Linked DNA regions of Homo sapiens: region 2 is linked to region 1. The links come from fine-mapping of genetic effects on gene expression. A gene starts in region 1. The other region holds a variant in brackets. All regions are shown on one strand. Distances are between the middles of the regions. Region 1 holds the start of DCLK3 (doublecortin like kinase 3). Region 2 overlaps LINC02033 (long intergenic non-protein coding RNA 2033).

The links. PIP is the estimated chance that this variant, and not a neighbour inherited with it, causes the effect.
Region 2: its variant is fine-mapped to the expression of DCLK3 in unexposed skin (GTEx, PIP above 0.99).

Annotation. Positions count from the first base shown.
Region 1 is chr3:36,754,352-36,769,097 of GRCh38, forward strand. DCLK3 (doublecortin like kinase 3) reads right to left here and starts at 10,202. Exons shown (of 5, transcript NM_001394672.2): 1 at 9,831-10,202. The coding sequence starts at 9,912. LOC105377029 (a long non-coding RNA gene) reads right to left here. Exons shown (of 3, transcript XR_940721.2): 3 at 14,637-14,746. It also overlaps the pseudogene HSPD1P6.
Region 2 is chr3:36,805,192-36,821,427 of GRCh38, forward strand. It overlaps LINC02033 (long intergenic non-protein coding RNA 2033), which reads right to left. Exons shown (of 2, transcript NR_147141.1): 2 at 15,359-16,226. Among named protein-coding and RNA genes, the nearest start is that of LINC02033, 9.2 kb to the right of the region's middle. The variant T/C (reference allele first, on the strand shown) is at 9,348.

The DNA of each region.
Region 1 (14,746 bases):
CCACTGATTTTGGTTTTCTTAACTTGAACACAAGGTAAGACCCCTGTTAGGGACGTAGTCACCTTTTATTTTACATTAAACAGTCTGACCTGCCAGGCCTGTCTTTAACATTACTGAAGAGGTGGCATCCTCTGACATCATCTTTTCTTATCCAGACCGAAAACGTAAACACATTATTACTGACAAGTTTCAATCATCTAGGAGAAGACTTTGATTTGGTGCTAGTAGTGTCTAGGACCAGTCAGAGACACTTACAGGTAAGTTTTAAATGTGTGAGAGATTATATCTCAAAGAGAAAACCCACAATGAACCCAAGCTATTTGTTTTCATGGCTCCTGTAACTCTGCACATGTTCTGTGATGGAGAAAACCTATGATTGCTACCACATAGCCAACTCCTTCATGTATCTTTTCTCTCCATCTTTCCCTGTCTCCATGAACTTATTTCAATTCTAGGACATACCTATGTGTTTGTTCTGAGCCACCTGGAAAGGCAATTAGAGTACATGGACTCTCATGAAATAGTTTTTATATGTTTTTACTTCCAAATATAATTAGAAAGTAGTCAGCTATAAGGCAAAAAAAATCATTAATTACATATATTAACTATCTATGAATTTTCTATATGTATAGTGAAGCTTATATGTACATACAAGCTTTTGACATAACTGCAATAAATTGAAAAACACATGAAAAAATTTATACATTTATATGTCAACATATAGAAAATTGCTAGGAATAACTAACAAAAAATGTGTATGAGCAACATAAGGAAAACTACAAAACTGTGAGAGGAATTAGAAAAGCCGTTTAAATGACTGTCCATTCCAGAATGTAAAAGCCTAATAGACATATCAGTTCTTCCCATTTGTAATTTGTAGGTTTTGTGCAACTGAAACACTAATACAATTTTTGAGGGAGGACAGGAAGGAGATGAGTAGTGAGTAATGAAGATAGTAAAATATATTACAGAGCTACAATTACAATGTCTTGGTACTTGCACAAGAATTTAAGAAAAAAAACTATAGTTCCAAAATAGATACTACTTTATATGAGAATTTAACGTATAATGAAAGGTGATTACAAACTAGCCAGGAAGGTTAGAATGATTCTTATTCAATATTGGAACAACTGGTTAATAATTTGGAAATAAAATGAATTTAGATTCTTATTTTACAAATAATAACAAAATAACTTCCAGATGAATTAAAAACCATAGAGAAACATAAATTTTACTTTAATATTAATCAAACTACTGAAGAGGAGGGGAGTTTGGAAATGAGAAGCATTAAAGGAGGTCATGGGTAGCAGATCCCAAGAGTTCTTATGGACCAGTGTAGGATGGAGAAGTGGAGGATGGGCTGACATCAGTGGTGGCACCCAAAAAACGACAGTGTGACACTGTTTATCAGATAGATAGGTGCCCCAACTGATAAATATCAAAAAGCTCTAGGGCTACCACAATAAAAGACTCTTGCTTGTATGAATCCCAGTGTAAACCTAGCAGCTTTCTCCATCTCTGATCCTCCATTCAAAGCACATGGCCTCCAAGGTGGCCCCAGCAGCAGACGAGAAAGACAATAGTGGTATCCTGGCTTTCAACTGCCTGGAATGAGAAGTGACACATGGCACTTCCACCTACAGTCCAGTGGCCAGAGCTGGTCACATAACCCCAACCACCCCAAAAGATTCCTGGGTTGGTCTCTCTCAAAAGCACAGCCTAGGGCAAGGATATGGGTTGATTTGGGAGGTGATCTCAGACAGCACTAGAGGAGAGTGGAAAAGTGAAGTAGGACAGTGGCATGAAAGAGTAGGTTACTGCTATGGCCAACCTGGGCTCAGTTCTGCTGGGAACCTCTGGAGAGATTGAGTAGAACATGCCTCAGAGTTATCCTTCCAGAGGGGCAAGGAAACTGTGATATTCACCCATCCATTCCCTTCCATTGGTGGTTGAGGGCTGCTCCCAGGACATTAGCTGCCCAGCACTTCTGGGTGTGTGCACCAGATGGGGGCCAACCATGCCCCTGCAACCAAAGAAAGTCATCCAACAGTGTTGCAGTGGCTTGCAGTGGGAACCACCAGAACAGGAAAGATGTGTGCTCAGGGACCATGGACAGGGACTGATAGCATCTGCTAAAGAAGGGGAGCACATGGGTTATCTGGCAAGAACCACTGCCTCTGGCACAAATGGAGAGACCCAAGCTCCAGGGGACTTTGGTTGTAGCCCTCTGAAACCGAAACAACATCTGAACTAAAATGAATAACCAGCCTTGTCTAACCCATTCCTGGAAGAGACATTCCCAAAAAGTTATGGCTGTTATTGCTAGGAAATCTGCTGCTCCAACCAACCCTGAGACCCAAAGATACTTCCTGTAGGGTGCCTTGGACTAGCTTGTGGGTATGGAAACTGCTGTTAGGGGAAATGCCCTGCTAGTCTGGGGGGATTCTGGGATGAAAAAACATGGTGCCATCCTCAAGTGGCATGTGGTGTCTGGGGGTGACAGGTATGCCTTCGCTCACAGAACCTTTATCACAAGTTCCAGATAGACTCAGAGGCCCTCCAGGGGAGGCTACACATCTCCCTGGAGGGCCTCAGAGGCTCTGCTATGAAAACAATGCCTGAGACCAGGAGAGAGCATAAGTTTCTCAAGTGGGAACAGGAAAGTAAAAGCCACTTCTGGCAATCTGCTCATGTTGCTTCCCTCCATCAGTTGGTGCATTAGGTTAATTATTTATACAAAAAGTAAATACCAAGTTACATTTTAAAATATGTAATGCCAAAATTTTAATTAACATGAGATTTTACTCTAGAAACCACAGGGGTTTATTTTCGGTTTGTGAAATTTTTGTCTGTTTGTGTGGCTTTGTGTTCTCTGCCCTCCACTTCCCCAAAGTGCAGTGTTTCCATTTTACTTCTTATGTAATTACCTAGAGATCATTTAACCTCTACTCATTCCTCAAAGAATTTTCAGTATCTCCATCCAAAAACACAGAGTGGAAAGTTGATCGTTTGTGCTCTTAAAATAAAAACTGAAGGCAGAAAACTAATCTCACATTATATGGCATGACAGCTTCTAGCTCAGAACCATCCACAATTTTCTCAATTTTTTTCACCTCCTTTGAACATACAGAAAACAAAAAAAAAGTATGTGCTTAATCAGGTAATATTGCCAGAATCTGCTCCTACAGGACAGAAGCAGCAAGCACAATAGAAAAGCTAATAAAGCCATTCAAATCATCTTAATGAGCACTAATTAATGTCCCATAGAAGAAAAATAGACACTGCAAGATGTAGCAGTTTCTCAGAAACTGGTTCAGGAAAAGTCACATCAGTGAGAAAAGATGGGATGGTGAATACGGCAGAACACAGTTCTGGTCTTGAGCTCTTCTGTTCTTGCCATGGACATCTGACACCTGCGGTCCTCATCCTGGTCGGTGGTACCACCAACCACCCTCGACCTCCAAGACCAAGAGTCATCCCTGACTCCTCTTCCCTTCCATCCCCTCCCACATCGCAGTCAACCTCAAAGTCCTGTGGATTCCAGCTCCTGCGTGTCTCTCAAATCCATGCTTCCTCTCTCCCATTACCTTAACTACATCTGAGCACCTGCCCTCATCACATCTTAGCTCAGCTACCTGCAAGCCTCCCCAGATTCTGCTGTCTCAGCCTTCCTCTCTCCCCCTCAGCCACCCCATACACCCTGGGAAAAGTGATGTCTCTGAACCATAAAGCTGGTCATCTATGTCCCCTTCATTAAACACTCCAGTAGTTTTCCAGCTGTTTCTCAAATTCCAGGAGATCCTCAAACCTATCTTAGGAGGGTCCATGAGTTCTCAAAATTGTGTTTTGTTTAACTTTCTGTTTTCACTTTCATGATCACCTTTTTTTAAGAATCAATAGAAACATATTCTGGATCATCTGAATGGCCATGTTATGACTAAGTGCTACCACATAATTTCACCATATATACTCTTGCATTTATACTGTAGTTGATGCTATGGTCTGAATATCCCGGAAAATTCATATGTTAAAACTTAGTCCCCATTGTGGTGATATTGAAGGGTGGGGGCTTTGGGGAAGTGATTAAGTCACGAGGGCTCTACCTTAAAGAATGGATGAGTGACTGACAAAAGGGCTGAAAAGAAATAGCTTAGGCCCTTTGTTGGTTCCTGTTCCTTCCACTGTGTGAAGACACAAGGTCCATCCCCTTTGGAGTGTGTAGCAACAAGCAGAGAATAAGCCTTCACCACACATTAAGCTTGCAGGTGCCCTAATCATGGCCTGCCAGTCTCCAGAACTGTTGGGAAAGAATCTCTGTTCTTTACAAATTACCCAGGCTCAGGTGTTTTCCTATGGCAGCACAAACAGACTGAGACAGTTGGCATCAAGAAACATTATTTTAATTATCACAGGCCAATGAGAAAATAACAAATCAGGTTTAGTGTATAGAAAGGAAACTGATGAGAAAATTGAGCCATCATAAAACCTTGTGGCATGGCACACTGCACACCAAATTCATAAGAACCTGAACAACAGCTGTTATAACCAGAAATAGGGATTTCATTTTAGCAAAAATAACTTCATCCAGAACATTAAATTCATGAGGTTAATCCAAATGTATTTGACTTGTAGCTGTGTTGATATTTTATTTATATATTTGTTTTGGTTATGTGGTCATATGAAAGCTCTAAGTATAAAGAGTTTAGACCCATGTAAAACTACTACATATCTGAACTGCACTATAATAAAAATAATTTAAGCAACACTAGGAATCTACAAGAATTTTTTTCCTTTAAAGGAATTCCCATATTACTCTTATTTGAGAAACTGTGGCCTCAGAATGAGGCTTAAGCTTCATAACAAGACATATGTGGGAGAGTTGATATTCTCTGACTTTTTCTTCCATCCCAGCCGCCATCCCCTATTTCCCAGCCCCCTGCGCCCACAATTAGTTCTGACCAATGGGCTGTGGACAAAAGCAACATTGCATTCATTCCAGACGAGCCAGAGAGACACTCTCCCTCTATCTCTTCCTGCACTGGTGACTACAGTGGCCACATTTTCCAGATGGCAAGGCTGAAAACTGGGAGAAGCTCTGTCTACTTGGCTATCAATTGACCTGTGAGGGACACACATTGTGTGTGAGAAGTAACCTTCGTTGAGTTAAACTACCAAGATGATGAAGTTGATTTGTTACTGCAGCAAAGCTTAGAAAACCCTCCTGACTAATACACTTCATGAACTGAGCTCTGCTCCCTGATCAAGTCCTCCCCATCACACTCCATGCTCCAAACAACTCTTAGTTCAGTGACCTGAACACACCAAGCTGTTTCATCATGGCAGCCTACTTTTGCACATGCTGTTCCTCAGTCTTAGAATACTATTCCACACACTCTTCTGCCCTCCTCCAATCCCAGACACAGTGATTTATCCATCAAAACCCAGTTCAGATTTAATTACCACCAGGAAGGGTTCCTCCCTTTCTTAACTCTCTTACCTGCCTCTCCATTACCCTAACGCCACAGAGTGCTCATCTCACCATATCATAATCGTACATTTCTATGTCTCACACCTCCTCACCCACTCCCCGCAATCACACTGTGGCAGGGGCAGTGATGGGCCAATGGCTTATTCATCTCTACATCCTCAGGGCCAGCATGCAAGAGCAGGCAGTATTTGGCCATTTGGCCAGGAAGAATTTCCTCCAGGAGGCTGGTCCTAGGGCATTTGAAGGAAGCTGGGTTTGATCCATTATCTACCCAGTAGGAACATCCTACTCAACAGCAGCAATTCCTAGCTCTCTCTACCCCAGCTCCAGGCCAGACCTGCCTAGGAGGCCTGAACCCTCCCCATCATCTCTCCAAACACAGTGCTCTTCAGGTCCCACAAAGGACTCAGGCTTTACCCAAGAGGGAGTAGCCTAGGGCCTTGTACTCAAAATGTGGTCCCTAAAGAAACAACATCTACATAGTATTCCATGGTGTATATGTGCCACATTTTCATTCTCAGCAAACTATCGCAAGGACAAAAAACCAAACACCGCATTTTCTCACTCATAGGTGGGAATTGAACAATGAGAATACATGGACACAGGAAGGGGAACATCACACACCGGGACCTGTTGTGGGGTTGGGGGAGGGGGGAGGGATAGCATTAGGAGATATACCTAATGTTAAATAACGAGTTAATGGGTGCAGCACACCAACATGGCACATGTATACATATGTAACTAACCTGCATGTTGTGCACATGTACCCTAAAACTTAAAGTATAATTAAAAAAAGAAAGAAACAACATCTACAGAACTTAGGAGCTAGGGAGAAAAGCAGAATCTTAGGCCCCACCCTAGACCTCCTGAATCAGAATCTATATTTTAATAAGATCCCCAGATGATTCATATGTCCAGCAATATTCAAAAAGTACTGGCCCCAGGCAGCCAAACAGAATCCATTCAGCTAAAAGGTAACTTTAATAACAATACTTTTCATTTGTAATAATATCTGGTAATTGCTTTACATCACTAAATCCTCAGAGCAATTTGAATATGCCCATTTTACCAATAAGGAAACCGAGGCTCAGAGTAGTTGGGTATCTCGCTCAGGATCACATGGGTTTGAGGGGCCAGAGCCCAAATGTGAAAGCAATTCTGATGGACTCACCTCCATAACTACACACTACATGACACCCTGCCCTTTGCAAATTCTGTCAACATTTAGCCTTCAAAACCAGCCCAAGCAGCTCTGGAGACTTCCCTGTCCCTTCATGCAGCCACTGATCTGGTGATTATCTCTATTCTACCACTTGCTATCCACATCATGATGCCTCTACATACACCACTGTCCCCAAGAGATTGCCAGTTGTCTCTGTATAAAGATTTTATGGGCTTCCCCTATAATCACTGGATGAGTCCATGAAAATATTTCCCCTTTGACCATCAAAGAACACTCTGAGGCTGGCTGAACAATTGCTATTAAATGAATGGTGAAGATACTGAGGTTCCTAGAGAAGTTCAGTGACTTGCCCCAGGTCACCAGGAGGCTTCAGAACTCTGAGGATGGAGCCAAACTCCCCTCCCCAATTCCCAGTACAGATGTCTTCTTCCCACTCTTTCACTTTCCCTAGATTTCTCTCTTCTGACCTACATTACCAAGCAGTTAACAAAAACATTCTTTTCAAAGAACTCCCCCACGTATGCATCTTCAAAAGGGGCTCTGCTCCACCAGCAGACGGGCAAAATTTAGACATTATCAAGAGGCCACCAAAGGAAAAGGTGAGGAAACTCAGGATGCCAGATCAGATACAATGACCCTCCTGGATCCAAGGAAAGGAAAACGTCTTCAAGCAAGAGCCTCCAACTAAAGCAGCCCATCCAAGCCCCTACCCAGTAACCTCACCGTCAAGACAAGACCCCTCTGAGAACTTCTGGAGGCTGGTGGAGACCTACCCACCCTCCCTGACCAGGCACCACCACCCGCCTGCAGGCTGCAGGATTGAGATTCCACCAGCCAAAGCAGCCCTTTTCCTCCCCTTTGTTGGCTTTAGAAAGAAACTAAGACTGGCTTGTCCAAAGAAAACCAAAACATCTGCCTGAAATATTCAAATATTTAGGGGAAAAAAGGGGAAAATCCCTCTTTGGGGGATTTTTTCTTGGGAAAAAAGAGAAGCCAGAAATGAGATCCTGGGACAACTAAGCAACTCTGTTTTTTGCTTTTCTGAGCACCACGCCACCATGATCATTGAGTACTGTGTGCACTGCCAAAGAAGCACTGATCAGGGGGCTAGTGGACACTGAACACCTGTCTGCCAATCCGTTGCCTGGGCATGGGGATCCATCTGCCCAGAAGGGAACACCTTTTGTGAATTCATACAAAGGCACCCTACAGGTTAGCATGGGCTACCTATTACCGATGTTAGTCATGTTTGGATAACATAGGAAGAATAAAAACATTGACAGTGAGAAGGGTCCATGTTTTTATCTGGATTCCTTAGAATCAGATCCTGAGATAAGAATTCCTATGAAAGTGTATTAGGAGATATTCCTAGGAAAAAATGGTAGGGATGTGAAGAAGTAAAACAAGAAAAAGTAGCAAGCCAAGCGAGGGAAACAAGCCAAGCAAAGAACCATAGAGGTCAATTTGACACAACTCCACATTGGATCTCTGGAAACAAAGGATGTCATGCTTCAGAGTGTCCCAATCAAGGGCAAAGAAGCTGGACTATTTATACTCCAGCACCCATCAGTCATTGAGGAGGGGCTGCCCCAGGGGAGATGTAAATTCCCAGGCACTCCCTGTTCTGAGTCCCTACAAACATAGGCTCTGCCGCCCAAGGGTCATCCTCCAACAAAGAGATGGAGGGACTGGCAATTGGAAGTGAAGGCACCCAGGGTACCAATACGCACCAAGATGGCAAAGCTCACCATAAAAGAACATGACTCAAAAATCTTTCAAACCTAAATGAAAGGAGTTACAGAACATCTTTCAGAAAACACTTTCTGCCCCTCTTTGTTCTTTCTTCAGTGAAGCAATTTAAATATTAAATTGAAATGCTTTTCTAAAGTTGGGCTGTGAGGCAAACCCAATACTCTTTTCTTTTTTTTTTTCTTCCTGAGGGTCTTGCTTCTTGCTACTTTATCCTAAGGATAAGCACAATGCTTGCCTATTGCTGTAGATGCCTCATTGATCAAGATCATTAGCTCAACATCAGCCCAACAGATCTCCACTGTAAGCAGTTACACAGACACTTCACAGCTCCTAATACAATCATCAAAGTGCAGGGCCACCTAATTAATGCCAAGAGGTTTTATGACAGCCAATGATGAAGGTGGGACCCTGCTTCAATTTAACAGCTGTCATCTTGGACAATACATCAAGGAAAGGAAATGGAATCAACTAGGAGGGGGTGAGGTGGAGGAATGACTAACTGTTAGGATTGAATAACAACGGAGTTCCCTCCACAACTTCTCACACACTTCCCCCCTCCCAGCAGGCAGATACTCTGAAAAGGTGTCCCCAGACGCCTCTGCCAAGGACTGGCACAGCCTTCTCCCTTCCTCACCACACCTCGCCCCCAGGGCCAGACATGGAAAGGAGTGTAAATGTGATCCTATATTTGAAATTAATTGATAGGATATTTCACGAGCTCAGATTTTTTTATATTAATTCCCAAATGCTCTGCCTGTATCCTTTTTCCTAATCATCTTTGGTTCTTCTGTGTTTCTTTAGTTCTAAGGAGGGTTTCTTGTCATTTAGATGGGTCAGAGACCTCTAGAGACCTGGATCCAACTCCAGCTCCGCTGCTATGGAGCCGTGTGACCCTGGGCAAGGCACGAGCTCTGTGGGCCTCAGTTTTCTCATCTGAGAAATGGGGATAATTCCATTCTTTACAGATTTGTGGAGAGGATGAAATACGCTTAACTCTAGGTGAAGCGCTTGGCATGTTGAGTTGCACAATAAATGTCAGCTCCCTCCCTGCGCCTTCTCCCTTCTGCAGCCTCACCGCACCTGCACCTTGAAAGACACCCAGTGCGTTTCCCAGGAAGGGCCCCCCTGCTGGCGAGGGAAATAAAATCAGCTCCGGAGAGCGTTATTCCCCTAGAAAGCAGGTTTCAGGTGGTGTACACCCGCACGCGCGCGCGTTTACACACACGTACACACACATACACACGTACACACACATACACACACACAGTCCTCCGTACACCCACGCGGGGTCTGGCACTGCTGCTACATCCCGCACGGAGCGGGGTCCAGAGTTAGGGCGAATGAGTCCTCCCGCCCCCGCCAAGGTGGCGCCCAGAACGGGTCGGTGCCGGAGCGCACGGTACTCACCCGGGGCAGGCCGCGCCGGGCAGGCTGGGGCTGGCCGGGCCGGGGGCGGCGGCGGCTGCGGGGCTGGAGTGGCGGCGGGCATGGCGCGGCGGCGGGCTCGGGGAGAGCCTGGAGCAGAGGTGGCAGCGCGGGGACGCGGCTCGACGGTCGAGCAGGCGCGGGAAGGCGGGGCGAGACGAGCAGCCACGAGCCCGCGCCGACTCTCCCTCTTCTCTCCCTCCCGCCGCCCGCCGCCCGCCTGCCAGCCCCGCGCCGCGCAGCGCCCGGCGACAGCCACCGGGAACGTCTCCGGGGGCGCGGGACTTAGCAACCGCGCACCAGCTGCAGCCGCCCTCTCTGCGCCGGTCCCGCCATGCGCGCCGCTCCTGGCCCTGGAGGCCGGGCGGGGCCGGGCTTTGAACTTGCTCCCACACCCCCTGCTTCTCCAGTGAGCGCCCAAAGGCGGTCCCGCCTCTCCCCGGTCAGCGGAGTCCAGCCTTTCTGCTCTCCTTCCCCGCGCAGTTCCGCGGTGGAACCTGGCTGCGCTGGGTTTTGAACGTGCGCTTTGCCCCTGTTCTCTGTGGGTGGGTGGCAGCCCAAAGGCGACCCCAGGACCACCAGCCATCCTCGTGCCTCCCTGCAGGGCAGGGGCCAGACTTTCCACACCACTTCCTTCCTCCTATCCCATTCCCGCTCCTTGGATACACTGACCGTAGGTCCCAGGGCCGTTCTACTCTAACACCCTTGTTGCCCCCCAGATTCAGAGACCTGCTTACACTCTGGTCCACACCCATGGTCTCAAAGACTTAGGCTGCAAAACGTTCCTCCAGCCTAGTGGCTTCTTGGTACCATCTGAAGGCAGCTCGATGGCCCCTTGCTTTGTTGTACCTCTTCCCAGCACCACACACCTGTTCCTCATATTTGCAGGTCCCTCAGGTCTGCAGTGCGGGGTCTGGGGACCCATATTCCCGGGTACTGACTCCCAGATCTCTCCTGCGTCAGATAATAAATTCACTGGATCAGCCATACCCTTCTCTCCACAGGGCCGTTGACATGATTACAGAGTGGTCTGGCTTTTGCCTTTATCAATCAAGTCACAAAGTGGTCTTGTCTGTTGGGTCTGATGTTGCTGTTCTGTGAAATTGTTTATGCTCAACAGAACGCCAAGGCCGAGCTGATAGAACCAGACCAGCTCCCAGATGGCAGGGGCTGTCTTTCTCTTTATCACACATAACAAGAAGCCTGGAAGAAGGCTCCTCTGTGTGTGTTCAGCTGCTCAGGGATGACGTTAAGGACTCAGTCTCTTTCCATGATTCCACATGGCCACCTTCAACATCTTGCCTTTTCTCCTCAGACTTGTTGCCTCAAGGTTCCAAAATGGCTGCAACAGCCATGCCATGATGCTGCTGTGCAAAAAATAACTCCTGGTTCTAGCTGGTTTGTTGGCCAGGTACTCTGAAGTCATCATCAAGGACAGTTTTCAGCAATCCAGTTCACCAATGGTGAACACAACAAATGCCCTGCCTTCAAGTCACTCACCTTCTAGTAGGGGGAGACAGATAATAAAATACACAAGTATGGTGATAAATAGTATGAAGAAAAATGAACCAAGAAAAAGGGAATGTGATTATGTAAGTTGAGTGGTTGGGAAAGGTAACATTTGAGTAAAAACCCGAAGGAAGAACCTATTGGAAATCTCTCTGGGAGACAAGTGTCCTTGAGATACTTACACACTTTCTTTTTAAAATCACTTACTTTTCTCTTTAACAGCCACTCTTCCTGGCCCTATCACCTATATTTTAGGAGAAAATAAAAGTTAAATAAACTGAGTTTTAGTAAAAAGGTTTAAGCTTTGTAAAGGAGAGATCAGATGACTTGTGTTTTCTTCCTTGCAAAAGCAGCAATCTCACAGTGTTTAATTATTGGCTGGATTATCATGATTTAAATACGAACTAGATATACACATATCAAGCAATCACAATGAACACCTTAAGTTATCAGATTACTTCACAAGAGTGAGGGATATATCTTGTTGAATATTGGCAAAGAAATTGCTAATTGCCTACTCAACACCTATTTTCATTTCTGATCCGGTATTTTAAAAAAAATGTTTTTTAGCTAAGCATACTACCACCTGCAATTTAAAAAAAATACATTTTCTAGCCTCCCTTGCAGCAAGGAGTGATGATATGAAAAGTTTCTGGCCAATGAAATATAATTGTAAGTGTTGTATTGGATTTTCAGTAGATGCCTTAAAGATGCTGATTTGGCTGACAGATGCACTCCTTTGTCCCTTTTCCTTCGTCCTGGAATCCAGGTATAATGATGTGGTAGGTGAGATTATTAATTTCAGTTATTCACTCCATTCCTCAATTGAATTGGACAATCCACCCTTTATGGTACTTGGAGTGTGTTTCCCTGTACCTTGACTTTAGGCTTGGCCATCTTTCTTTTTCTTTCTTTTCTTTTTTGTTTTGTTTTGTTTTTAACTTTAAACAATTTTTTATTACACAAAGGTTGTCACATAATTGGATATTTCTCTACTTTGTACATAATTATTCTCACCCTCCACAGAAAGTCTGCTTAACTTCTCATCTGGTGGTGGCAAGCACTAAAATCCTGATTTTAACAGAATAGTAGTAAAAATGCCTCAGTTATTTAAGTTGAAGGCAGTACATTGGTACATGACTCTTGTACCCAATATCAGGAATGTACAAATGTCTTTTTATTCAAAAATACAAAATAAAGTATTGATAGGCATGGACAATGACAGCAGTAAACCATTATATATTTTGTCAACTGAACCAGTAACTGATGGTTATAATGATTTCTTAAACATCAGCCAGCCTTTTCTTCATTTTCTCCAACTGACTTCTCTGAAGTTATTGGTGAGGAACACTGCCTTGACTTCCTGTCACAGTTCATTAATAAAAGTAAAGCACTATTCTAGGAGTTACAACATGCCCCCTCCCATACCACATCCCATTCCACCCATTGCACCCATTCCAGGGTCCTTCTCTTCTTTAGGAATTTCTGTGACTACAACTTCTGCTGTAGTTAACAGAGAGGCCACACCAGCAGCATCCAATAAAGCAGTTCTCACAACCTTTCTTGGGTCAATAATTCCTTTTCCCACCATATTCACAAAATCTCCGACCCTAGTAGCATCATAACCAACTTCTGAGGAACGTTGCATAATTTTCTCAACTATCGAAGATCCTTCAACACCTGCATTCTTAGCAATGGTCATTGCTGGAATTTTGAGTGTTGTTTTGATTGTTTATATACCAATTAGTTTATCTTCATTAGCTGGAGTCAATGAGTCCAAGGCTGGAATGCACCAAAGCAGGGCACAACCCCCTCCCAAAACAATGCCTTCTTCAACAGCAGCTCTGGTAGCATTAAGGGCATCTGTAACTCTGTCTTTCTTTTCATTCGCTTCAACATCACTTGTCCCACCAACCTTTGGCATAGCTATCCCATCTGAAAGTTTTGCCAGTCATTCAGTTTTTCCTTTTCATATTCACTAGTTGTGACATCTAACTGCTCAATGATTTCTTGAATATGTTTTTCAATTTGAGCATTGCCACCTTTTCCTTTTAAGAGCATGGCATCATCTTTGGTCACAATGACCTCTCCAACTTTTCCTAAGTCATGAGGCTGAACATCTTCAAAATGTAGGATCAACCCCTCTTCTCCAAACACTGCACCAACAGTAGTAACAGCCATATCTTTGAGCTGGTTCTTTGTCACAAAACCCTGGAGCCTTGACTGCCACAACCTGAAAATCAATCTTTAGGCTGTTCAAGACAAGTGTACTTAGAGCTTCTCCACCAACATCTTCAGTGATTATGACCAAAGGCTTACGGTGAGCACTGGCAGTTTCAAGAGCAGGTACAATGGACTGGACACTAGAAATTTTCTTTTCACTCAACAGAACATATGCCTCCTGGAATTCACATTTCTGACCTTTTGATGTATTAATAAAGTATGGAGAAACATAGCCTCGATCAAACTTCAAGCTTTCAATAATTTCTAATCCATCATTCAGTGTTTTCCCATCCTTTACTGTTATGACACCCTTTCTTCCCACCTTTTTCACTGCATCAGAGAGGATATGGCCAATTTCTTTGTCTCCACTTGCAGAAATTGTAGCAACCTGCGCAATTTCTTCAGGGGTGGTCACAGGTTTAGACTGCTTTTTAGGTTCAGCTATTACAGCATCAACAGCTAACATCACACCTCTCCTGATTTCCACTGGATTAGCACCTTTGCTAATCTTCTCAAAGCCTTCCTTGGCAATAGAGCATGCCAGTACAGTAGCAGTGGTAGGGCCATCCCCAGCCTCTTCATTTGTGTTATTGGCAACATCTTGAACGAGTTTAGCTTCAATATTTTTATATTTATTCTTTAAGTCAATTGACTTTGCAACAGTCACACCATCTTTTGTTACTTTGGGACTTCCCCAGCTCTGCTCAATAATCACTGTTCTTCCCTTTGGCCCCATTGTAATGGCTACAGCATCGACTAAAAGGTCTACACCTTGAAGCATTAAGGCTCAGGCATCTGCACTGAATTTTACATCTTTGGCATAAGCCCGAGTGAGATGAGGAACCAATACCCTGGACAATGGTCTTATCTAAAGACAGTGGGGAACCGAAGCATTTCTGTGAGGTGGTGGCAGGGCATGCCCGGGGCGTGGCGAGGCAGGTCGGCAGTGAGTGAGGCCTTTTTTTTTTTAAGACTTAGTTTCGCTCTTGTTGCCCGGGCTGAAGTCCAATGGCGCAATCTCGGCTTGCTGCAACCTCTGCCTCCCAGGTTCAAGTGATTCTCCTGCCTCAGCCTCCTGAGTAGCTGGGACTACAGGCGCACACCACGACACCTGGCTAAGTGACCATCGTTCTTACTTAGGCCAGTAGGATGTTATTGAACATAAT
Region 2 (16,236 bases), 52 kb after region 1:
TTTATTTTCTTATTCAAGAGTTATAGTTCTGATGTCATGTGGCCATCAGCCTTAGATCTTTATGTAGAAAAAAATCTCTATCTATCCCTCCTGGTTGTCCAGAGCTGTTAAAGTATGAAAGCAGAAGGGAGCTAAGGAGTTAGTGGAGAATACTTGGCAAGAGACTAGAGAAAACAGAGGGGAACCCAGAATTTGGGACCGCTCTTCTTCTGGTAGCACATGCCAGTTCCAAAAGAGCCTATCAATAGGGTAAGCTGCACTTTGGCACCTTCATGGATGTAGGGGCACAAAATAGAGTCTAGAGCCCACCAAGGGTGAGGTCCCTGGTAAACTCCCACACTTTAAGTTGGGGCTCCAAAAGGTTAGATCCCAGGATTAAGAGTGAATCAGAAGTAAAACATTCATTGTGCAGAAGTCATCTGAGTGATCCAGAAAAATTCAATCCCTTATGGCAGATTAAGGTGATCTTGGATTTTTAGTGCCCCAGGCCAAAACAAATTAAAATCCACACTGGAGGAAACTTTCATTATTCTAGGCTTCACCTATTTCTACAAACAATTTTTCAAATGTTTTTTCTTGTATACAATCAAAGATAATCAGTCAGATGAGAAGATAAGAAAGCAAGGATGAGAACTAGCAGAAAGAACAAATAATAGAAATAGACCCACAGGAGTTCCAGATTCTGGAATATCAAACACAGACTTTAGAATGACTTTGCTTACTATGTTTACATTAAAAACAAGATGAAAATTCTGGGTGCTATAAAAAGCACCTGAGAACTTTTTCCAGGCAGGGAGCTGGGGCAATCATAGGGCTCACCTCATTTGTTTTTCATCTCTCAAGGATCACTCTCTTGATTTTTAGTATGGTATACCATTGTGTCTTTTACTTTGTTCATGTTTTTTGGTTAAAGTAGGAAAGTAAATTCAGTTCCTCTTACTCCATCCTGATCAGAAGCAGAAATCGTACCCTAAATACTCTTCATTATACCACCTTGTTTGTTTCTTCACAAACCACACCACACTCAAACCATTTTGCTCATTGTCTCTCTGCTTAGCTATTACTTATCTTATTCATCAGAATACAAACTACATGGAGCAGGAAACTTTTTCTCCTATATCTACTGGATGCACATATATTATCTGGCATATGTCTGGCACATAGTGAATTATCAATAAATATGTGTTGACTAAATAAATAAATGAGCTCATAGCACCCAATGTGTACCTTCCAACTAAGCCAACAGAAGTCCAGACACCTTCTATATATGGCTCTTTGGGAATGGAATACATCCCCTCACTAAAAGAGCCCCTCATCATCCCTCCCAACTTGAGCCAGCAAGCTTCCCTCTCTGTCTTCTTGCTGTCCTTCTCTTTCTCCCATAGGACAAAAGGCCAGATTCATCCCTCTGACATCTTTTGTCTGGAATGTACAATGAATTTTTTTCAATTAGTGCCAAGATTTTATAATTAAGAGATTTCACTGACAAATATGAATTTCTGGCTTCTTTCGATCAACCAGAGCTGGCAACACTGGTTACTACTTGGAAACAGATTGCCAGAACACAGCCATGGTTACTCTTCTTAGGAGGGTCACATGCGGTCCTGTTCACCACAATCCCCACTCAACCAGCCTCACTGACTCTACCTATACAGCTGGAATAGGCATTGAAACCTAGGACCTGTTTTGGCTTTTGAAAACACAACCTTTTCCAATCCAAAGGAGACCCTCAATTTCCAAGACAAAAGATCTACTTGCCTTCGTGGTAAGCCTGGAAGAAATAAAGATATTTAATTTTCCCATTAGATTCCCTGGTACATAATAATTGTGCCCTTCACAGAAGGACCTAGGAAGGAGACTGATAAAGGCTAAAAGTTTGATTCCAATATAATAATTAAGAGTAAGTTCAGCTGCAAATAACACATCACTCAAAAGCATATTTAAATTAACTAGACAGAAGTTTATTTCTCTCTTTCCTGGAAGTTCAGAAGCAGACAATCCAGAGCTGGTATGACACTCCTCATGGTGAGTCTCCAGTTTCCTTCTATCTAGAACTCTGCCATGCCACTTTATGATCCAAGATGTCCCCCTGTCTCTAGCAATCTTGTCCATATCCCAGACAGTAAGAAGGAGGAAAAGAAGAACATTAGGTTTTTATTTTCTTAAACGACTTCTAGAAGTTAAACAAACACACTAATCCTGTTTCCATCCAGTTCTGATCAGAACGTAACCACTTGGCTACCCTTAGATAAAAGGAAGGCATAAATATACTCTTTATTAGCAATGTTGACCAGGTTACTACTACTTGGAAATGGGCTGCCAGAACGTGGCCATAACTATCCTTCTTAGAAGGGTCACATGCTGTCCTGTTTATCACACTCCCCACCCAACCAGCTTCACTGACCTTACCTATGCAGCTGGAATAGGCATTTGAACTTAGGACACCAGAATGTTAAACACCAGGGATTCTTTTTTTTATTATTATTATTATACTTTAAGTTTTAGGGTACATGTTCACAACGTGCAGGTTAGTTACATATGTATACATGTGCCATGTTGGTGTGCTGCACCCATTAACTCGTCATTTAACATTAGGTATATCTCCTAATGCTATCCCTCCCCACTCCCCGCACTCCACGACAGGCCCCGGTGTGTGATGTTCCCCTTCCTGTGTCCATGTGTTCTCATTGTTCAGTTCCCATCTATAGTGAGAACATGCGTAAACACCAGGGATTCTATTGCTGTAACAGAAGGGGAAAATGAATACTGAGGAATCACTTGTACTCTCTAATGCTCCGGTATATAAAAATACAGAAGAAGAAGAAGACCTCAGAAGAATACAGCTTGCTTCATGGATGATTTTCACTTGCTCTAAAGTTTCTTCTCGCCACTCCACTCCTAGGACTCTTTCTAATAAGGATTGAGACTCAGTAAGTGTTGCTGGAGCATCTAACATCTGCATAACTCCAAACATTGACATAATCTCAGGAAAATGTGGAGAAACATGCAAAAAGAACTGAAGTTGAATTTTCCTACTAACTGGTTGGATAGGGGATTGTGCTGGCCATTAAATTACAATACAGAAAGTAAATGAAGTTCTATTTTTCTTACACCAGGAAGACACTGAGCAAAAACACCTGCTATTGCTTTCCCAGACAAATCCTGCAAAACAGAGATCTAATGCTGGTGGCATATCTCTGAAAGCAGAATCAACACTCTGTCCCTGGAACAGTGGGATCAGCTTATAGGCTGGCTATAGGAGATTCCCTGGGTTCTGTTTGGCATGGGAAATAGGCTGAAGACAAAGACAGGAATAAAGAGACACATTATCTTGCAGGAAGAGTTCTGTGGTTGAAGGTGGATACAGGAAAGACTGAATTATGAGCATCTCTGCAGCTGCCAGTCTCTATTAGCTTAACAAATTACACACACGCACACACACGCACATGCACTCATGCACACACACACACACACATGCACTCATGCACACACACACACACACACACACACACTGCTGTATAAGCAAGTTCACTATGAACCCATCAGCTGGGACCCACCATTTGATTCTCCTGACAACAGCTGCAAAGAAGAGCAAGAAATATGAGGAACAGGACAGGGCAAAAAACAACATACATCAGAAACATACTGCCATGGAGCAAATGAAAATTGTGACCAAATATTTGACCACAACCTAAGAAATTAATGAAATAATCACCTCTTTAAAACAAGAGCACTAAGCCAAATAAAATATTCAAGGAAGAAACAACACTAGAAGATGTTTCAACATAATATGAAAAAACATCAAAACTTAGGAAAGAGGAAATAAAGCAATTGCAGAAATATAAACCAATTTGGAAGGAGCAAAAAAGACAGAGAAGACTGAACAAAGAAGGGAGAAAAAAATAAAGAAAATTCTGCAAGGCAAATTAAAAACTAAACAGAGTCAAACTACAAACTATGAAGAAATATTTGCAAGACATGATGAGTAAGAAGCTAATTTTCCTTCATATAAAGAATGCTGGCCAGGCACGGAGGCTCACGCCTGTAATTCCAGCACTTTGGGAGGCCGAGGCCGAGGCGGACAGATCACCTGAGGTCAGGAGTCTGAGACCAGCCTGGCCAACAGGGTGAAACCCCGACTCTACTAAAAATACAAAAATTAGCCAGGCATGGTGGCAGGCACCTGTAATCCCAGCTACTCAGGAGGCTGAGGCAGGAGAATCGCTTGAACCCAGGAGGTGGAGGTTGCAGTGAGTGGAGATCATGCCACTGCACTCCAGCCTCAGTGACAACAGTAAGACTCCATCTCAAAACAAACAAACAAACAAAAAGAATGTTGTCTTAGTACTTTCAGGCTGTTATAACAAAATGCCATAGACTGAGTGAATCATTAACAACAGAAACTTACTTCTTATAGTTTGGTAGCCTGGAAGTCAGGATGCCAGCATGGTTAGGCTCTGGTGAGGGCCTTCTTCCGGGTCGCAGAAGGCCACATTGCTCACTCTGCTCACACATGGAGGAAAGGGGATGAGAGAGCCCTGGGGTCCCTTTTATAAGAGCACTAATTCCATTCTTGAGGGCTCCACCCTTATGACCTAATCACCTCCCAAAGGCCTCGTTTCCTAATACCATCACACTGGGGGTTATGAATTTGAGGGGACACAAACATTCAGTCCATGGCAAATATATACAGTAAATAAGAAAAAAAAACAGAAACCCAAAAGAAAAATCCTCAAAGAATATGAATAGACAGCTCACTGAAAAATAAACACAAATGGATTTTAAATGTCTGAAAAAGTTATCATAAACAAACTGATAGTATAAAAAGTGAATATTAAAACTCAGATTGCTAGATATAACTACTCCATTGGCAAAGGTCAAAAAGCAAAATAACACATTGGCAAGGAAATAGGAAAATATGTTTCTCATACATTGTACAAGGTAGCAGAAATTAACCATCGGTGGATGGTAATTTGCAAAACTTATCAAAATCTCAAATGCACATGTACCTTGACCTACCAATTCTATTTCTAAGAATATATCCTGTAGATTTGCTCTCATATGTATGCAGAGATGAATGCGCAAGGTTATTAACTACATCATTATTTGTGATAGGAATTGGAAACAATGTAAATGTCTATCAACATAAGATTTGTTACATATGTTGTAAATGTAGAAAAAATGAGGTAGATCATTATATACTCATACATATAGATAAGTTATTCAGTGAAAAATTCAAAGGTAATAGTGTTGAAAGGAAAATTAGGAAGTCAGCAGTGAGAAGAGGAAAGAAGACTTAATTTACATAGTATACTCTCTGGTGTTATTTTAATATTTTACCTTATGAGCATAATTGATATGTCTATAAATAAAAAGCCAGTCAAAAATAATTAATTTTAAAATATATTATCCAAAGTATCCACTTTAAGCTCAATGAAAAATAATAAGAGGAGGTTATTTGAGAACCAATCCAAACCAAGACCAGACCAAACTCTCCAAGTGCAGTAGCTATTGGGAAATATTGTATATTTGTAGTAATGACTCCAATTTTTCAGTCCTTGTATCCATGCCCTTTGTTGTTGTCAGGTAAATTTCAGTGGTTTCTCGCTGTAGCAGGGACATAATTCTACCCCTGACATCCACGTGACTTGCTTTGGCTAATACAATAAAATGGAAGTGATGAGATGTCAGTGGTAAGATTAGGCTTTCAGAGACTGTGTGTTTCAGCTTGTTCCTCATGCTTCTGCTATCTCCATGAGAAGGACATGCCTAAGGATCCCACTTGTCCCAGGAGAAGAATAAGAGTCATGTGGACCAGATTGATTGCAGCTAAGATTGCGTATCCATTCTCAGCCTGAGCCAACCCCAACCTTGAGCAGAACCTCCAGGGGACTTACAGACACATGAGCAAGTCCAGTTAAGATCAGCCAAGTTCAACCTCATAACCTGTGAGCTTTAATAATGAATTGTTGTTTTAAATAATTGTTAATCCAGAAGTCTCACTACTGGGTATCTACCCAAAGGAAAATAAGTCATTATATGAAAGACACTTACATACATATGTTTATAACAGCACAATTCATAATTGCAAAGATGTGGAACCAACCTAAGTGCCCATCAACTAACGAGTGGATAAAGAAAATGTGGTAGATAGACACCATGGAATATTACTCAGCCTTTAAAAGGAATGAAATAATGTCTTTTGCAGCAACTTGGATGGAGCTGGAGGCCATTATTCTAAGTGTAACACAGGAGTAGAAAACCAAAAACCATATGTTCTCACTTACAAGTGGGAGCTAAGCTGTGAGTACACAAAGGCATACTGAGTGGTATAATAGACTTTAGGGACTCAGAAGGTGGAGGGTGGGAGCAGGGTTAGGGATAAAAAACTACACATTAGGTACAATGTACACTACTGGAGTGATGGGTGCACTAAAATCTCAGAATTTACCACTATATAATTCATCCGTGTAACAAAAAAAAACTTGTACCCCAAAAGCTATTGAAATAAATTTTTTTAAAAAAGGAAGAGGGAAGAGGAATTGCCCTTTGAACAACCCAGTGTCAATCAAAAAATCCCAATGTGTTCCAAGGTGTACTCTATCTCAATTCTTTGTATTCTTATAGCCTAATTAAGCACACAGATTTTCAATAAATGCTTATTAGAATAATTGGATGATTCAGAAAGTTTAGGACTACCTGGGGGATTTTGGAAAACTGACTGTGGATACATAAATGAAACTATAGATCATGTAGTGGTCTTTTCCCTGACACCTTAACTCTTGCCTGTCAATCATTTTGACTTCTGGCCAGGAAGTTGTGCAGTGCAGCGAGAAAATGCAAATGGGCAGAGAAGCAAAGGAGCCTCAGTTTCTTTCTTTGTGAAATGGATAAGAATAAAATAAAGCTCGTCTGTTATTAAAAAATAAATAAATAATTGTTAAGGTGGTTTGTTACATGACAATTGCCAGCCAACAGGGATGGTGTCAAGGTGTTTTAACCATATTACCTTGAATGGAGTGTGGTAAGGCCAGAAGCAGATTACAAGAGAGAAACAGGAAAGAATTCAACAGTTATTGTACTCACAGGTCCCTGGGAGAACACAGCACACCATGCAGGGATGCTCAGGTGAAGCTCCAGGCTGATCATGAGGCAGAGGGAGAAAGGGCACCTGTGGGCAGGTGCCTTTATTATGGTTTCTGTGGGAAGGAATGCGTGAGGCAGGGTAAGCAAGCTAGTTTGACTAGTTTAAGCCATTCCAGAATTAGCTAGTTCAAATAATTTCTGGGGCATGGGGGTTGTCCCTAGTCACCTGATACCTGGCCCTGGGGTGATTAGGGCAGGGGTAGAGCAGTCCAGGTGTATGGTAGCCCTGAGTGTGAGAGCCTAGTAGAGGAGGTAGCTGAGGATGTGGATTTAATTGGATGCTCAAGACAGAGAACTGACCAGCGTCTAGCCAGGGCCTCAACCCTGGATTAAGACAGTATTTTTAGAAAACTATAATACTCAAGTTCATAGTCCCTGTGGCCTTATGGATTTTTTTTTTTTCTCACAGAATATGTAGTAAGAAGCAGCTAGAGGCAGGCATCCTGGGGAAAAAATCAGATACAGGGTATATCAATTATTAATTATCTGGATTAAAACTCCATTGAGGGTGTTCCAGTTGCTATGGCTGCATAACAAACTACCCCAAAATACACTGGTTTATTTTGCTTACAGATCTGCCATTTGGGTAGGGCTCAGTGAGAACAGCTTGTCTCCATTCTATTTGGCATCTATGAGGGGCAGCCTAAGGGCCAGGGGCTAGAGCCATCTGAAGTCCTGATCACTCACGTGTCTAGTGGTCAAAGCTGGCTGTGAGCTGACACCTTAGCTGGGGTTGTTGACTAAAACACCTACATGCGGCCTCTCCATTTGGCTACATGGGCTTCCTTATAACATGGCAGCTGTGTTCTCCAGACCCTTGTGATAGGAAATATTGTAAATAATCTAAATATCTAACAACATGAAATTTGTTACATATGATGTGGAAGCCATATCATTTTTTATGACCTAACCTTGGAAATAATGCAGTTTTTCTTCTGCTATATTCTGTTCCTTAGGTTAGTAACAAAGCCCCACTCAGGTTCAAGGAGGGGGAAATAGACTCCATCTCTTGATGAAGAGTGTAAAAGTGCTGGGACAGCATGTGGACTAGAAATATTGCTGTGTCTGTTTTTGGAAAATACAGTCTGCCTCAGGGGATGGGGGAGCACAGTAAAAATGAGGTAGGCGGTGTCTCTGAGGTGAGAGAAGCGAGTAGGGGCATGACTAAGCTTGGCTGCGAAGAGCCTGGGAGAAGCAGGCAAGCGATGCCTGCCTGTGGTAGAGAGTGAGCTGGAGACGCTGGTAAGCAGCAAGGAGCTTTCACGGCCTGCCTGACAGTTGTCACCTTTCTTTAGTGGCATCTCTGCTGGGTGCTGCTTAGGACTAATGATGCCAGGGTGTGGTGGGAGGTTAAAAGTGTGGCTGAAGTTGCAGGAGTCAGTGGGACCTGATGCTGCATCAGGAGTGTCCTGGGCTCAGGCTTGGCTAGCAGGAGGGGCAAATCTGAAAGCTATCATGGACACAGTGGGGGCAGCAAATAAAATCCCTGTTATTTGTACAGTGCTAGGGAGGCATGGAGCAGTGTACTAGAAGCTGGTGAGGAAAAGGCAGGTTGCTTAATGTCTTTGACCTCAGTTTCCACATCTGCAAAGTGGACATTGCCTACTTTTCAGGGTTACCAGGAAGATTAAGTACAAGGATACCTGAGACATTTGATTACAAACGCCAGTTAGTGGACACTCCACATAGAGGCCATTATTGCTATGCTTGGATTCTCATGAGCCTTCTCAAAGGAAAAGGAACTAAGTGCCAATATTTTGTCCAGAAATAGACTGACTCCCAGGCGTCAACATCATCTCGCAATATTAATTCCTGGGAGCATTTACGGGGAAGGCAACAGAGTCTGATAGGGGAAATGATCCACTTCTTGATTTGAGCCTGACAGCTCAGAGCCTCCCACTCACAGCAGAGGACCTGCAGACTGGGTTTCCCAGAGAAACCAGCTACTTCTTGCTGCAAGGGAGGTGCCTCTATTTGAAGCTAAGACTGACACACAGCCCCAGATTCAGGCTGGAAAAAGGCCGGGAGCCTTGCTCTTCCCTCCTCCCCATGGGCCTCCCCCTGTTCTCTTTGCTTTCCCCAGGTCCCCTCTCAGGGCTTAGCTCAGGTGGCCTGGCCCCTCACCCATCTTGCTCTCAGGGCAGAGGAGTTGCTGAGACAGGGAACAAAGGAGGCCGCACTCAAACGCTGACAGTCTCAGA[T/C]GCACCCACTCAAGTGCACACTCTTGGCCCTGATTCTGTGTTAAGCTGTGAGCCAAAAATACATCTCATCTAGACGGGAAAATGTGTCTAGAATAGCATTGTCTGTACCCACACACACACACCCTACCAGCCCCACCAAACTTTGGACTGACTGTACACTAGGCCTAGCAAGCAGTAGGTGCTCCATTCCCAGCCTTCCCCTCTTTTTTCTCCTGCCTTCTGCCCCTCAGGGCCAGCTGTAAGTTCACTTTGGAAGTCTGCAGAACTGGTTCAAGGGCTCAAAAGAATTCTCTTTGACGATCCTCTGGTTCTCTTACTCCCTTGGAAACGAAAGTCCAATTCAATTCAACAAACATTGAAAAAAATTCAATAAACACTGAAAAAAAATTGAGCACCTACTGCAGGCCAGCCCCCTGCTTAATACCAGGACAGGCCACTAGGAGCTCTTCGCTAGAGCAGCACAGCCCCACAGAGCTTTCTGGGCAATGAGAATGTTCTAAACCTGGGCCATCCAATACAGTAACCACTAGCCACATATAGCTACACTGCACTTAAAATGTAGCTAATGCGACTGAGGAACCAAACTGTCCATTTAACTTCATTTTTAATTAAATTGTCACAGGTGGACAGTGATTGCTACGTTGGAGAATGCAGGCTAGAAAGAGGCAGGTGTGTGCATGAGAGCTCTCTTCTACCTTCCACTCCAAAGTCCTACAATACAGCAGGAGAGCATCAGGGTTAGGGAAGGCTTCTTGGAGGTGGTGTTCTGGCAGAAGAGGATTAAAGGAGGCAGAGGATTTCAACAGGGGAGTCTAGGTGGGAAACGGACTTCCAGGCAGACACTAGCACTGGGCAAAGGCGCAGAAGCCGGAAGTGGGGCATGTCTCCAGGGGGCTGTTAGGAAAGGGGGAGGCTGGTACATCAGTTCCTTAGGGGTAAAGGGAGTGAAATGGGACATGAGGCTGGACTAGCAGGCTGAGGAGAGCTTGACTGTCAGGCTACACGCTGCGGGCACCCTGCTGCCTTTGAGCAATGAAACGATACAGTCAAGGTAAGCTTAAAGAAGCAGGCAGCTGTGTCTAAGACAAATAAGAGGGCAAGCTGGGCAGCCCTGGGAGGTGGGTGCCGTTATCCAAGCAAGAGGGAATGAAGACCTGAGTCGGTACAGACGCAAGGATTTGGGAAAGGGGGAGTGTGAGTGTACCCTCGAAGCCACTCCTAGCACCTTCTCTGTCTTGCACCCCTAGCACCCAGCTAAGTTTCAGACTATAAAAGGAAGTCAAAGCACATAGTAAGTGGCCAATAAATGTTTGCAGGGGGGAAGGATGAAATCGAGCAATTTCTTAGGTATGATGATTGGTTAGAATGTATCCTTGGGGCTGAAACAGAGATATTGATTCATTCCCTTGAACTCCAGAGAGCTCTTGGGTGCTTACTAAGGGCTGCACACATAGGTATGGGGGATGTGGCATAAAAGAGCCCCAGCCCTGTCCTCGGGGAGGTCACAGCCTCACTGAGGGAGGCAATCAGCTTCTGAGGCTCCTGTCTGAATCGAGGATGGCCCTTAATGAAATTTGAGAAGTCAGGAAGAAAAGCTGGCAGGTCGGGCAGAGCATTATTGTTTGGGGCATGCTAAGTTCAGTGTGCCAGTGAGACAATCAGGGTGGAGAGGCCCAGCTGGTCCTTGGAATAGGTGTTGGGGCCACTATCTTTGCTTGTGCAGTCCTGAGCACAGTGGAGAAACTGAGGGAGCAGGAGGGGTAGAGGTGTCCAGGAAGTAGAATCAGAAATGGAGGCAGAAGGCAGTGCCCACAGAACAGGCTTCATGCTCCCCTGTCACATCACAGGTTCTGGTCTCTGTGATTGTGAAGCGGGACTAATGGACTCAACTAAACCTATTCTCCTTTAAGTGTTGCTCAAAAAAACCAACACCTTTACCAATGATATGGGCTAAACTGTGTTCCCAAAATTCATATGTTGGAGTCCTAACCCCCAGTACCTCAGAATGTGACTGTACTTGGAGACAGTCTCTAAAGAGGTAATTAAGTTAAATGAAGCCATTAGGGTGGGCCCTAATTCAATATGGCTGATGTCCTTATAACAGGAAATTAGGACACAGACAGGTTCAGAGGGAGCCCCTGTGAAAACAACGGGAGGAGACAGGCACCTCCCAGCCGAGGAGAAGGCCTTACAAGAAATTAAACCTGCCAATGTTCTGGTCTTGGACATCTAGCCTCACCACCATAAGAAAATAACTTTCTGCTGTTTAAGCCATCCAGTCTGCCTAGTGCACTGTATGGCAGCCCTAGCAAACTAAAACACCTGGCCATTGTTCAGTGGGTGACAGCTTTAGGCAAGAAGGCCTCTAATCCTCTTCTCCTTCTGCCAAACAGGCAGTGCCCTCCCCACTGAGCAGAACTTCCCTTCCCCTTCCCCTTTCCCACAGGACCCCACTCCCACACACCTACTCTCATCCCAACAAGGGTGATAAAAGGATTTTAGAGCCCTTCAGGTTGCAGTCTCTCACTTTTTTAAAATATCTCTTGTAATATACGTAGAAAAAGCAGTGTTTGTCCCTTGGCAAAGACTCCTCAGATATATTCCCAGACTGAAGTTCACATGCACTAAACAGCAGTTGCTTTAACTCCACCTGGACACCCCCAGGCAGCCTATGCATTTTTTTTTTTTTTGGCCTTTGAATTAAATGCAAAGAAGAAACAGAGGGATAAGAAATTCAGCCACATGCATCCTCTTCCTCTGTGCCTCAGCCCCCAAAACACACCACACACACACACACACACAGAGAGACAGGAGAGGGCATGCATCCCCTTTCCCTGGCAACTGTCCTCTCACTCAAAAGCTGTGCCCTTGGGACCAAGGCCACCTCCTACCTCCTCCAGCACATACAGCCTGACAGCCCAGCATCTGTCAGTTACAAGCCGAGGTCTCCCTGACAGCCCTGACCTGACTTGGGGTCCTAATAGCTGAGTTCTGACAAGTGAGGAGAGTTGGTGATCAAGGGCAGCAGTCCTGCGGGCAGCTCCAAGGACTCCAATGCTTGGCATCAGGCACGCCAAATCCCAGGGTGGCAGGGTGCATCTTCTGCCTTTCATCCAGCTGTTCTGACATCTCGACGCCCCGGCCAGAGGAGATCCATGTTTTACCCCTAGCCCTGACCAAGCTCTGAGCGAAGTTGAAAAAGTCACCAACCTGATCTGTAGTTCTGCCCACCTGCCTTGTGAAATTAGGAATATCCATGCAAGAGACTCCTTCCCTTCCTTGGATCTGACTAAGCCCTCTGTTGTCCCAGGGGTCCCTCTCTAAGGCCGACAAGATGGGACAGTGAGAAAGAATCCCTGACACTGGGTTCACCACCGTGGCTCTCACTCAGGAAAATGGACTTTGGGAGCAGCTCAGCCTGCAGCTGACAGGTAACAGCTGTGGGGCGGCTCCAGCTCCTTCCCATTGGCAAATTAGCACCTGCCAGACCTGCAGTCAAAACAGCCAAAGGACTCTGGATCATTGGAAGTAAGCTGACATCTGCTTGAAGGGAAACTGAAAGGAGGAAAGTGGTGGGGTAGAAGATAGAAAAAAGGTGTTCTCATCCTCAAGAAAACCTCTGTCCTCTCTATTTCTGTGCAGTTCAAACGAACTTACCAATGCCTGGGCTACTACTGGAATGGAGGTCCTGGGGGACAAAGCTAGACAGAGCTCTCAGGGCCTCAGTTTCCATCTGCATAATGGATGTACTCAGACATCTCTCTCATGGGAGTGTCGTGAGTATTCATGCAGGGCCAGTCCCTGTATGCACCAGTACCAAAGGACTCAACCCAGTACATGACAGCTGTTACTACTGAAAGAAGTCAGGGAAGGAAGCAGGAGGATGCCATCAGTCCCAAGACTCAAGGACAAGGATGCTCTCATGGAGTAAAATAGGAGGTGTAAAGCCAAGATTACGAAGAGCAGGACACCAAAGGATCTGATGATAATGTTCAAGTTGTACATAACAAACAGTTTAAGTGATTCCCTTTTAGTTACTGGTGGGTGGAGATGCATACCAGGTATGCCCTTGGGACCCAGGCCACGATCCACCTCCTCCAGCACATATAGCCTGACAGCCCAGCAACTCCAGAGTCTACATTTATTTTAGCAGGATTTCTGCTTCTTCAAAAATTTTGTTTCAAAGCTCTTCGAAATAAAGTTGATTCAGGTCAACTGGATGAGAAGCACAGGGCCAAGCCAGACCCAGGTGAGACCTCAAAGGACGTCTAGAGGAGGATCCTTTCCTGCCAGGCTACCACTGCTGTGGAACCCACAACACTGGCTCTCAATATTGCTTGGTAAACACCTGAGTGCAGACAGAGGGTTCTCTTCTGACCACCTCTTTGGGCCACAAATGTTTTCCCTCTCGAAACTCTCTATTTTGCTGTCTAAAAATTTCTTAGTTGTTTTTTGTGACCACAAACATAACCCAAACTATTTTAAAAAATCTAACTCTTACCAAATAATTAAGGACACCAGCAACAACAATTTGGCACTGAATTTTTGTTTCCATTTTACAAAGTAAAGAAATAAATTGAACCAAGAAGGTTTCTCTGTGGCTTGAGTTTTCAATGAGCAAGTGATCTTTGCCATATTTTTATACCAGCAAATTTAGGTAGAAACCAACCCATGTTCGTGGTATTCAGCCATGCCCCTGAGGAATACATGGATTTTCTCCCATCTTGCACTCTCCCAGACACTCCTGAAGTAAACGTTTATTTGGGAACTTGTAGAAATGTTTCTTTAATATAAATTCTTAAAAGTAGGAATGCTGGTTATATACATACAATGGAATATTATTCAGCCTTTAAAAGTTAGGAAATTCTGACCCCTGGTACAACAGGGACGGGCCTTGAGGGCATTATGGTAAGTGAAATAAACCAGTCACCAAAGGACAAACAACATATGATTCTACTTACATGAGGTAATAGAGTAGTTAATTCACAGAGACAAAGTAGAAGGGTGGCTTCCAGGGGCTGTGGGTAAGGGGAAATGGGACTGGTGTTCAGTGGGTGCCGTTTCCAGTTTGCAAGATGGAAAAGTTCTAGAGATCTGTGGCACAACAATGCAAACATACGTAACACTACTGAATTGTATACTTAAAAATGATTAAGATGGTCAACTTTATGTTATTTGTATTTTACCACAATCAAAACTAACAATAAAAAAGAGAAAAGGACTGCCCAAAACAAAAAATGGGAATGCTGGATCCAAGGGTGAGTGCATTTTCAGTTTTAACAGATATTGTTGAAGTGCACTCAAGAAAAGCTGGACTGATTTTTGTTCTCATTACAGTGTGTGAGGGCCTTTCTTGTCCACTTTTTCTCCATAATGATTTGGTAATAGCACATGGGAGAGAAAATGGGCAGAAACTGATACACTTTACTTGAAGTATAACAAAAGAATATTAGTCTGCTCAGCTATGTCCTGATCCTCAAGAGTGGCCACAAAGTAAATTGGGTTGCAGCTTTCTGCAGGGTAGGTGCAGATCTCTGCGATGCCTCCAGAAACTCCAGAGTTATTCTGGTTCTCTTCCCCCATCCCACTCCCTAACCTTAAAATGATGACTCCAAAAATCACAGACTGGCCTACATATTTCCCTTAAACAGCTGTCCTACAGAATCACTAAAACTTGGGTTAAAAATAGTCTCAGTCTCTAAAAGAAGGCTGGGTCCCTGGAACAAAGCCCTCTTAGAAATGCTCCCACCACCACAGAGGGAACACAAAAGCTGACCCATGTGGCCCCAGGGCTCCTCATCAATCCTGACCCTCCCTGCCACCGTGGAAACAGAGAACCTGCCTGAAATCTTTTCACATCCTTGGTCCATCTGTGAAACAGAAGTCGGAATACAGGGAGAATAATGCAATTACAACCAAGCTATGCGTTTGTGCCATTATTTCCATTTTATAAATTCCCAGAGCTCAGAGAATTTAAAATTTAAGTAAGGCGTCTGAATTCACACAGTCAGTATGAGAAGCCACATTTTAATCTTAGATCTTGCTCCAAAGATACTGTGATGACAGTACCCTGTTCCCCATTGCAGCCCATCCCCCTAAAATGTCCTGTCAGATATTCAGGTCACATCATCCATAAGAAGATACATTCTGAGTCTTAAACAGAGGACATAAAGTCCTGAACAGGGTTAGAATTCTGCAGCACCAGGAGGAAGGTTTCTAAACAACCCACCTCAAGAACACCTGGTACCTTGCTGATGGGTTATCCCTTCTTACTGAGCAGAGAAATGCATTTTCCTGGGTGGTGGGTGGGAGTAAGGATCAGCTGTCTGTTGATGGCAGGCCTGATTTATCTGCTACCAAAAGGAATTAAAGTCTATCGGGTTAAACAGAGTTTTCCAGTGAACTCTTCTTAAACTTTGCACCATTATGGTGGTTGTTGGGGGAGGGGAAGGTGGCTCCTCAAGCGCCCACCTGGGCTTTTGTTCTCCAATCAAAATCTCTGAAGCAGATTTAGAGTGACAAGATCAGGGGAAGCCAGTATCCATTGTCTAGGAGAGATATTTGTGGCAGAAAGGAGAGCAATTTCCTGCTGAATTGATTTACCCATCCTTCGAATCATGATCTTACAGATGACCCGGGACACAGGTTTCTACATGGTATTGTAGACCTGGGACACAACTACATGGTATTGATCCAGGAACATGTTTAAGGCATCCCAGATGCCAGATTAGGCTGCTGGAGAAGGCCAGGGAGAACTTACTATTTCATTTACTTTATGTGTGTGTGAGAGAAAGGGAGGCAGCATGGGAGAGAGACGTTGGGCATTGAGCAGATGATGATGGTTATGGCTGGAGAATCTCTGAAAGCTGGCTTCTTGTCCTGCAAGGAC